2 separate regions of the Homo sapiens genome follow, and region 2 is linked to region 1. Evidence: fine-mapped expression QTL. A gene starts in region 1. The other region holds a variant in brackets. All regions are shown on one strand. Distances are between the middles of the regions.

Evidence for each region. PIP is the estimated chance that this variant, and not a neighbour inherited with it, causes the effect. A credible set is the group of variants that fine-mapping cannot tell apart.
Region 2: its variant is the best candidate, but not a certain one, in a credible set for the expression of MEIKIN in blood mononuclear cells (TOPMed, PIP 0.51).

What each region holds. Positions count from the first base shown.
Region 1 is chr5:131,943,475-131,948,858 of GRCh38, forward strand. It overlaps MEIKIN (meiotic kinetochore factor), which reads right to left and starts at 2,189. Exons shown (of 13, transcript NM_001303622.2): 1 at 1,926-2,189; 2 at 1,682-1,775; 3 at 1,191-1,278. The coding sequence starts at 2,031.
Region 2 is chr5:131,907,778-131,913,161 of GRCh38, forward strand. It overlaps MEIKIN (meiotic kinetochore factor), which reads right to left. Exons shown (of 13, transcript NM_001303622.2): 8 at 4,038-4,102. Among named protein-coding and RNA genes, the nearest start is that of MEIKIN, 35 kb to the right of the region's middle. The variant T/TA (reference allele first, on the strand shown) is at 2,986.

The DNA of each region.
Region 1 (5,384 bases):
AAACAATCTCAATTTCCCAACCACAGGGAAATAGTAATACAAATTACAGTGTATCTATCTACAAGACAAAGCACTATGAAGACACTGAAAGTCATATTTTTGAAGACTATTTAATGTATGGGAATATACAATAAGACAACTGGTCATTTTTTTTAAAGCACAGGAGAAAAGGAACAGAAATATATAAAAATTTTAAGAAACTTTCAAAACACTATTTTTTCATAGTATAAATACTCTACAAGGACTACTTTACACTGTTAAACTATGGATAAAAGCCTTTTAAAAAAATGTCTTGTGTTGAAACTGCCTTCCCCCAAAAACATGTTATAAAGGAATATTAAGTTAAAAAAAAATAGAACTTGGCCAGGTGTGATGGCTCAAGCCTGTAATCTCAGCACTATGGGAGGCCGTGGCGAGCAGATCACTTGAGGTCAGGAGTTCGAGACCAGCCTGGCCAACCTGGAGAAACCCCCTCTATACAAAAATTAGCTGGGTGGTGGTATACACCTGTAATCACATCTACTCAGGAGGTTGGGGCAGGAGAATCGCTTGAACCCGAGAGGCAGAAGCTGCAGTCAGTGAGCCAGGACTGTGCCACTGCACTCCAGCCTGGGTGACAGAGCAAGACTCTGTCTCCAAAAAAAAAAAAAAAAGGAACTTGACTATGAAGTTTAATGTTAATGTCAGATGAGTCACAAGCAATTTTTAAAATCTGAGCTTCCCTAAATTAGTGCTGTACAACTTTAAAATATAGTACAGAATTCATATTAAATACAGCACATCAAGAAGTTATAAAATATTCTAATGAATAAACATTAGAATGCTCTGTAACATATTAAACCCTTAGTAATGAATGTTTCCAGTTGTTAATGGAAAATCAAATGGAAAACATGAAAAAAGGAGTTATTAAGTAACATTTTGTATTTGTCATACAGAAAATTCACCAATTATGGACGTTTCTCCAAAAACGTGTCAAGAGAAAGAGAAAAACAAAAATGCATGACTATGAATCTACCCAAGTCAGAAATTCAAGGCCCTGTCTAAAGACACGTAAGTGTTTATAAAAATACTGGTGAGCTATGTAACATCTACAGAACAAAGCCCATTTTATTCTTTCATCCGGAGGTACATCAGGTACTGATAGTCTCTACACTAAGTGTGTCCAAGGACTAAAAGAGAAGCATACATACACGCAACGATGCAATCTTCTCATCCTGGGTGTCTTCACTAGACCTATTTTCTTGCAGGCTTTTCTCTCCTGTAACTCCTAAGCGAGGGCTAACAAAGAGACAACGCAATTAGTTTGCACCATCTGGATTTGGCTCTCCACGTCTCTGTTCAGACTCTTTAGAATCTGAAAGGCTCTTTAGGGACATCTTTAGGAAGAAGTAAGGACCAGAGTGGTGACTTGCACCAAAACCCAAATGCAGTGACACAATCGTATAGCTCACCGACCAATTTATCTCACTTCCTTTTACGTAAATTGGCAAGCCTTCCCCTTTTTAAAAATAAATCTTCCTGAAGTCAAATTTTGGGGTCCATGTTCTGAGAAGAGCAAAATCAGAGTACTGTATTTGTTTTGCTCCTTGACTGTTAGAATAAAAGGCTACTAGCAGAAAATTCGGCTTGAAGTTTTCTGAGGTGGCAAGCTAGGATCGGGCTGTTACTGGAGGCTACATACCTGAACGGCCCAGAGCCGCTACCTCCCTGCCTGCTCCGCTCTGCTTTCTCTGCAATCTTCGACAAGCCGTGCACTTTGCCTTTTCTCTTCGAACCTGAGAGAGGGCGGCACGTTTCAGGGCAAGAAACCTACCCACCGGCTTCGGGGGGGTCCTGGGCCCGAGGCCTAGCACCCCCGCCCGCCCTCGGTCCCGTCCCGGAGGCAGCTCGGCTGAGCTTACGGTGGGCGAGCCTTGAGCCTGTACCTGGCGGGGCCTCGGCCTTCGCTGGAGAGCCTAGGTCTGGCGTCGGGGTGAGATTGAGCCTCTGACCCTCCCGCTTTTTGCGGGTATAGACCCGTAGCGGCCACATTGCTATCCCACCCTACCCCCAGGCCACGGGTGCCTCTGGACTCTCGATGGCCTGCCTTCCTGAGGATCAGGGCTAAGTCACAGGGAGTCAGCGTCCAGGCGAGGCCCGCGGAGCAGCCTCACAGCAACTAATCGAGCGAAAGCAAAAGCCCCAGAACTGGAGCCGCCGGGCCTCGCTCCCGCGCTTTTATCTCTGTGAGGCCGCGCAGAGGCTTCTGGGAAAACGGAGGAGCGCGGCAGCCGCCCAGCCTTCCTATAGGGGCCCAGTGGTTTCTGGCCTTCTGGCGCAGGTTCCTTCAACTCCAGCGAAACGAGAGTTTTTTGGAAAAAACTTTTTCCTCGTCCAGAAAAAGGTTTAATTCAGCCCCTCCTCCTCCGTCTGAGCACTTAGGTTTCGCCTGTGGCTGCATGCTTAATTCAACTGGGCATGCAGGAGTAAAGGCGTTCCCTCCTTTGGGTGGGCCCAACACTTCCTCTGAGCAAGCTCTCCCTATCAGCACTGCATAAGGCCTTAGTAATGGAGTTTTAGGCCACCAGCACAGGCAGTCTTGTGAGGGGTTGGCCTCAGTGCAGGAAGGTCACAAAGAGGACTGAATGCACCTTAAAGTGACAAGGAGCTTCTCCCTGAGGAATCAACTTCAGTCCCCTGGGCCTGCAACTGACTGGGAAGCTATGGTAATTAAGAGGCTAACCAAGCCTCTGAAGATCCCGGGCTCTAGGAGGCTGCTTCTGGACGACAAACAGTCCCTTAGCCTGTGTCCAGGAGCCATCTCTAGACATCTGGGCATCCTTGTGGTTAAGGTAGAAGATTCCATAGGGGCTCTCCTCCTTGTGCCCTGGGCCTCAACTTGTTGCTGCACCAGACCGATCTGTTTCTTCTTCTTCTTCTTCTTTTCTCCTTTCTTCTTTCTTCTTTCTTCCCCTTCCCCTTCCCCTTCTCCTCTTTTTTTTTTTTTTTTTTTTTTAAGACAGGGTCTGGCTTGTCACCCTGGCTGGAGTGGAGTGGTACAATCATAGCTCACTGCAGCCTCAAACTCTGGGCTCAAGTGATCCTCCCACCTCTGTCTCCCGAGTAGCTAAGACTACAGGCACATGCCACCATGCCCAGCTGATTTGTAAATTTTTTTATAGAGACGGGGTCTTGCTATGTTATCCCAGCTGGTCTTGAACTCTTGGCCTCACGTGATCTTCCTGCCTTGGCCTCCTAAATTCTTGGGACTACAGGTGTGAGCCACCTTGCCCAGCCTTGGTTCAACTTTTATGTAACAAAATTGTGAGTTGTTTTTCAGTTGCCATGAACCCTGAGGTCATGTAACCTGAGCATGCCTAGATGAACCAAGCATGCAGCCACAGGGGAAACCAAGTGCTCAGATCAAGGAGGAGGGACTGAATTAAGAAGTAGATATGGCATGGCAGGATCCAACCGGGTTGAGCTCTGGCTTCATCCCATAGCAGGATCCAGTCAGATCATGCCTCCCAGCATCACCTCATTACAAGATCCAATCAGATCACATCTCTTTACCCTATGCTTATAAAAACCAAACCAAACCCCAGCTTAGGAAGACAGATTTGAGCATTTCCTCCTGTCTCCTTGCCAGCCCACTTGCAATAAAGCTTTTCTTTTCCCAAAAGCCAGTGCCATGGTATTAGCCTCTGCATTCATCAGGCAGTGAGCCCATTGACTGCTCGGTAGCAAACTCTTCTGCTCTGTCAATTAGAGATATGTTGGAATTACCTCCCTTTCTCTCCATACCCTAGGTTGAACCATCTGGCGACATCAGATGAGCATATTATGCACATAACAATAACCATCTTTTTATTCTAAAAAGTGGAAATATTTCATAACATTTAAAATGCAGTTTGAAGAGATAAAACTATGAAAAGCTTAAAGGTTTTTCTGTAACACCTCAGTCTTGTATGTGCGAATATAAGCACATATATATCCACAGTATTTTTGTAATATAATCACTGAATATTTTATTTAAAATCTGCTCACAGAAACATTTATGATAATCAATTTACTAGATAATTAATCATCAAAATCTAGCTTTCTAAAGAACAGATGGTAGGCATTCTTACCTGGTTTTACCTCGGGTTTTGAGTCATTGAATCAATATTTACTGAACACCTTAATCTGTATTAAGCACTGTGGTAGGTCCTGGGGATACAGAAGTGAATCAGAAATGGTCCTTCAGTTAAAGATCTCACAGCCTTGCTGCAGTATAAAGCAATTATCATCTTTCAACATTCTTTCTTTAGTCGTGTCCATAATATGCTGGCAGGCAGTCTCTAGTTTACAAGCCAGGCCTTTATGCTCCCCCCTCTCCCTTTGGGGGCTGTTGTGAAAAAAATTCAGACTTCTTAAATGACATTTGGGAGGTCTAGAGCCTGGGGTGCCTTAGGCCCAGAAATGGAAGAAACATTGCAAAATGAAAATAGGTTAAACCAAAAGCTGGTCTGCCATTTGGTGGTCCTGTTCCCTAGAACTCTGTCTCACTATACTGAATTACATTCACTGATATGTCATCAAGTAATTCCCATAGGTTTGTGGGAATTAACGTATCAGGTTTCAAAACCAGAAATAAACTTTGATATGATTTCTTTAGCCAAAAGGGTCCTTAGAGATGATCTAGATGCCCCCTCATTTTGCCACTGAGGAAACCAGAGTGTAGGGAAGCTATTTAAAACAGATGATTGGCATAGGGAACATGGTTCTCCTGGCATCTGGCTGCTGCGCTTGTCATACTCCCATTCTTCCTAACACATGGCTGGGAGAAAAGTAGGGGGAGCAAAGAGAGGAGCTTGAATTCCTTGGTGGCAAGGGGAAGTGAAGGAACTAGAGACAGACTTGGTCTCTTTGATACTTCACCTAGAGTCAACCTATAAAGGGGGAAAGAAACGTGTCTCCTAAAAAGGATGAGACAGGGCAGAGATATCTCAAATTCAGTCATCTATCTCCCCCTACTCCACTTCCAAATCTGCAAACACCAGTGCAAGTGTTTAATCATGAGTGTTCAAACTTCTTCCATTTCCCCATTGCACTGCTTCCATACCTAGACCCAAAACTCAGTAATCAGCATTTCATTTCAACACATGGTGGATTTGACTAGGCTTGGAACAGTCATGAAGATATTAACTTCCATGGGAAAACAAATGTCAAAGAGATTTCTGAATAAATCTTTTGGGAAAACAGCCAGTTTGTGGGTTTGAGATTCACTGGAGCCCAAAGTAAATCCTTTTGAATGATGTTTTCTTATGGAGTAACCCACTGAGCATCTTTGTGGTGCTATCCGTGAACTATGGGAATCCAACCACAAACCAGTTTATTTTTGCTTGGATGACAAGAATGGAATA
Region 2 (5,384 bases), 36 kb before region 1:
AAGAGAGTCACTTGAACCCGGGAGTCAGAGGTTGCAGTGAGCTGAGATTGTGCCACTGCACTCCAACCTGGGCAACAGAGTGAGACTCCGTCTCAAAATAAATAAATAAATAAATCCAAAACCTGAACAGGACAATACAAGTAACAAGATTGAAGCTATAATAAAAAGTCTCCTGGTAAAGAAAATTCCAGGACCTAGTGACTTCACTGTTGAATTCTACCAAATATTTAAAGAAGTACTAATACCAATCCTACTCAAACTGTTCCAAAAAATAGAGGATGAAGGAATACTGACAAACTCATTCAATGCTATCAGTATTACCCTGATACAAAAACCAGACAAAGACATATCAAAAAAAGAAAACTATAGGCCAATATCTCTGAAGAATACTGATGTAAAAATCCTCAACAAAATAGCAAACTGAATTCAACAACATATTAAACAGATCATTCTTCCAGACCAAGTGAGATTTACCCCAGGGACGCAAGGATGGTTCAACCTATGCAAATCAATCAATATGATACATCATATCAACAGAATAAAGGAAAAAAACCATATGATCATTTAAATTATGCTAGAAAATCGTGATAAAATTCAACATCCGTTCATGATAAAAATTCTCAAAACAGTAGGTACGGAAGGAACATACCTCAATATAATAAAAGCCAATATATGACAGACCTACAGCTAGTATCATACTAAATGGGGAAAAACTGAAAGCCTTTCTTTGTAAACCTGGAAGAAGACACGATGCTCACTTTCACCATTATTATTCAACATAGTATCGGAAGTCTAGCTAGAGCAGTCAGACAAGAGAAAGCAATAAAGGGCATCTGAATTGCAAAGGAAGAAGTCAAATTATCTTTGTTTGCAGATGACATGGTCTTATACTTAAAAGAAAAACTAAAGATTCCACCAAAAAACTAGTAGAACTGATAAATAAATTAGCAAAGTTACTTGATACAAAATCAACATATAAAAATCAGTGGCATTTTCATATGCCAACTGTGAACAACCTGAAAAAGAAGTCAAGAAAGTAATACCATTTACAAGAGCAACAAATAAACTAAAATATCTGGGACTTAACCAAAGATCTGAAAGATCTCTACAATGAAAACTATGAAACACTGATGCAAAAAATTGAAGAAGACAGCAAAAAATTGGAAAGATATTCCATGTTCATGGACTGAAAGAATCAATATTGTAAATATGGCCACACTACCCAAAGCAATCTGTAGGTTTAATGCAATCCCTATCAAAATATCAATGAAATTCTTCATACAAATAAAGTACTAAAATCTATATGGAACACAAAAGATCCAGAATAGTCAAAGCTAACCTGAGCAAAAATAACAAAACTGAGAAATCACATTACGTGACTTTAAATTATACTATGGCGCTACAGTAACCCAAACAGCATGGTACTGGCATAAAAAACAGACACATAGACCAAGGAATCAGAAAAGAGAACCCATAGATAAATCTATACATCTACACCGAACTCATTTTTTACAAAGGTGCCAAGGACATTCTTTGGGGAAGGGCCAGTTTCTTTAACATGGTGCTTGGAAAACTGGATAGCTACATGAAAAAGAATGAAACTAGACCCTTGTCTGTTGCCATATACAAAAATCAAATTAAAATGGATTAAAAACTTAAATCTAAGACCTCAGACTATGAAACTACTACAAGAAAACATTGGGGAAAGTCTCTAGGACATTGGGCTGGGCAAAGATATCTTGAGTAATACCCCACAAACACAGGCAACCAAAGCAAAATTACAAATGAGATCACATCAAGTTAAAATGCTTCTGCACAGCAAAGGAAACAATCAATAAAGTGAAGTGACAACCCATAGAATGGGGGGAAATATTTGCAAACTACTCCACCTAATTAGGGATTAATAACCAGAATATATAAGGAGCTCACACAACTCTATAGGAAAAACAAAAATCTGATAATCCAATTAAAAATGAGCAAAAGACCTAAACAGACATTTCTCAAAAGAAGACATACAAATGGCAAACAGGTCTATGAAAAGGTGCTCAACATCACTGATCATCAGAGAAATGCAAATCAAAACTACAATGTCATATCATCTTACCCCAGTTAAAATGGCGTTTATCCAAAAGTCAGGCAATAACATGCCGGTGAGGATGTGGAGAAAAGGGAACCCTCGTATACTGTTGGTGGGAATGTACATTAATATAACCACTAAGGAGAACTGTTTGGAGCTTCCTCGAAAACATAAAAATAGAGGTATCATACGATCCAGCAATCCTACTGCTGAGTATATACGCAAACAAAAGGAAATCAGTGTATCAAAGAGGTATCTGCACTCCCGCATTTGTTTCAGCACTATTCACAACAGCCAAGATTTGGAAGCAACCTAAGTGTCCATCAACAGATGAATGGATAAAGAAAATGTGGTACATAAACACAATGGAGTACTATTCAGCCTTAAAAAAGAATGAGATCCTGTCATTTACAACAACATGAATGAAACTGAAGGTCATTATGATAAGTGAAATAAACCAGGCACAGAAGGACAAATATCACTTGTTCTCACTTATTTGTGGGATCTAAAACAAAAACAATTGAACTCGTGGAGATAGAGAATAGAAGGATGGTTACCAGAGGCTGAGAAGGATAGTTGGAGAGGGGGAGTGGTTTGTAGGGAAGGTGGGGATGGTTAATGGGTACAAAAAAATAGAAAGAATGAATAAGACCTAGTATTTGCTAGCACAACAGCATGACTGTAGTAAAAAATAATTTAATTATACATTTAAAAATAACTAAAAGAGTATAACTGTATTATTTGTAACACAAAGGATAAATGCTTGAGGGCATGGATACCCTACTTACCCTGATGTGATTATTATGCATTGCATGCCTGTATTAAAATATCTCATGTAAGCCATAAATATATACACCATCTATGTATCCACAAATATTAATAATAAAAAAATTGTAAAAAGAAATGTG[T/TA]AAAAAAAAATCTCTAGAGTAAGTGGCTTATTTAATTTTAAATTTTAAGTTACCATATAAAAGTAAGAATACAGAAACATACAGAATTCAAGAATCACTATTCTGCCCTACCACCAAGCTTTGTAAATATTTTCCACAGCTAAAGCAACACTTTTTATTTGGCAAAACCTAGGTAAAATCATGGTTGATTTTGGTACACTTACCACTTTCCCTTTAATTAGTGCTCATCTGTTATTCACACATTCCCTTATTCTTTGATCTGTAAAACAAATCCTTCTTCCAATGCTAACCCTCCAGGGTAGAAGGTATTGCTCCTTCCAAGGATTTTGTGCTTTTACAAGATTAGTTTTTATCACTAGACTAATTTTGCTTAGAACAGAAAGTATATTAATTGTTTTATACCTACAGTTCCTAACTTAATGTGTGGCATTTAGTAAATGCTCATTAAGATAACTTCTTAAAATGAAGATTATGCAAATATATATACATACAAACATTTACAACCATCAAGAGCAAAATCAGCAATTCTTCAAGTTTACTCTCAAATGGATGCTATAAAACTTGATGCAGGAAATATAGAAAAATATGAGATACAGCAGAGGTTAATAAGGATGTAAATGTCTTGCTAAATTTATCCTAATAGTAAACTACATAAGGGTTTGCAAGACACTTTGCTTATCCCTTTATTTTTCAATCATTATGCATAACTACAATATATGTTCACTTATTGTCCTCTCCTACAACTGAAATCTACAAGGGGAGGAAAAGTGTATCACTTCCACTAGTATATATAACAATATCTAGTATGGAGTTCATATTCATTAAATGTTTATTAAATGAATAAATGATTGATGCTGTGGGGATAGCTAAGACCCACTTTCTGATCCCACATATCTTCATTTCTTAAATACAACCAAGCTAAAAAGTACTCGGTTCACTGGGCTACTAACTTTGTTAATGCATGTTGCAGGTAGCAAAAATAAACACAGAATCGTGTTTTAACATAAATATTACAATTACTACATAAAATAATTAGTTTCATTATTTGTTACCTGATTCTGAATTTGAAGCACACTTTGCTTTTGGAGAAACATTTTGATCTGCTACTGTCATCACTCTATAACAAGAACAAACTGTTTAGTGGTATTTTCTAAATCCTTCAGTAACTTTCAAAAACCCTCAAATAATACTTAAAATAAAGATATTTATTTGAGATTAATTATCCTGTGGGAAAATATACAGTTGCTTAGAAAAATGTTATGGTATTTATATGAACAAATAGTTTAATAAAAAAGGCAATATATTTATACATTTATGAGTGTGAAACAATATGCGTAGAGGACAGGGCATAGTGTTTAGAATAAGACAGACCTTGCTTTAAACTCCAGTTCCACTACTCACACTTGGGTGGCCTTTGGAAAGCTACTTAGCCTGTCTTGAGTCTTGGTTACCTCATTTATGCAAAAGGGATAGCAATCATGTTTCCTAAGATTCTTGTGGAAAGAATTTTAAGATACATGACAGATTGATTATTATTATTATTATATTATTATTATTATTATTGAGAGAGGGTCTTGCTCTGTTACCCAGGCTAGACTGCAGTAAAAGGTTTTTTTGAAATTAATATCCTGGGGTTTTTTTATTTTGTACTTCTACAAACTAGACAACCCCCAGTTCTATCTAAATGTGTAGGAAAGGACTAGCTATCACAAAAGGAATAAATAAGAAAGGATCAAAGCTCAGCCTCTGACCACAAAAATGGGATTTCTGAGTCCGTAGCAAGAAAATGCAGTTGAAAACCAAATGTGAGAAGGGAATTTTCTAAATTCCTACACTGATTAATTGAATAGTTGAACTCAGTAAACAGAAACAATTTTATTCTTTCATATTTCCTTTTAAACGTATCCTGTCAAAATAGTACCTTCTCGCCTCTGAATGAACTTTCAGGTAGATTTCTTTTTACTAACACCTTTCTGGCATTCTCTTGTAATAAGTAGCTATTTTTAGGTAACAAAAAGTTCAGTGTAATATTACAAATCCAAACTCTCCTTATGCAATTTAAATTTTTTCCTTTTCTCAGCTTGGGCATGATTTAGACTCAGAATATGCTGTGGGAAGAGCAACCACCATTGGTTTCATCTCTGTTTCTTGTTCTTTTCCCTTGCCTATTTGGAAACTACACTTTGGGTTCCTCTGGCAGTGAATTATAGGAAAGGAGTTTTAGAAATGTACAGGAAAGTCTTTCTCAATCTTGACTGATATAGTTATGTGCCATTGGTATCTCTGGGATATGACACATAATCAAATGTGGACCCTTTTAAACTTGAAGTATTCTGAAGGGTTCGTTGGAGGTTTACCTATCACTGGAGCTCTACCTATCACCGGAGCTCTCTCACTTG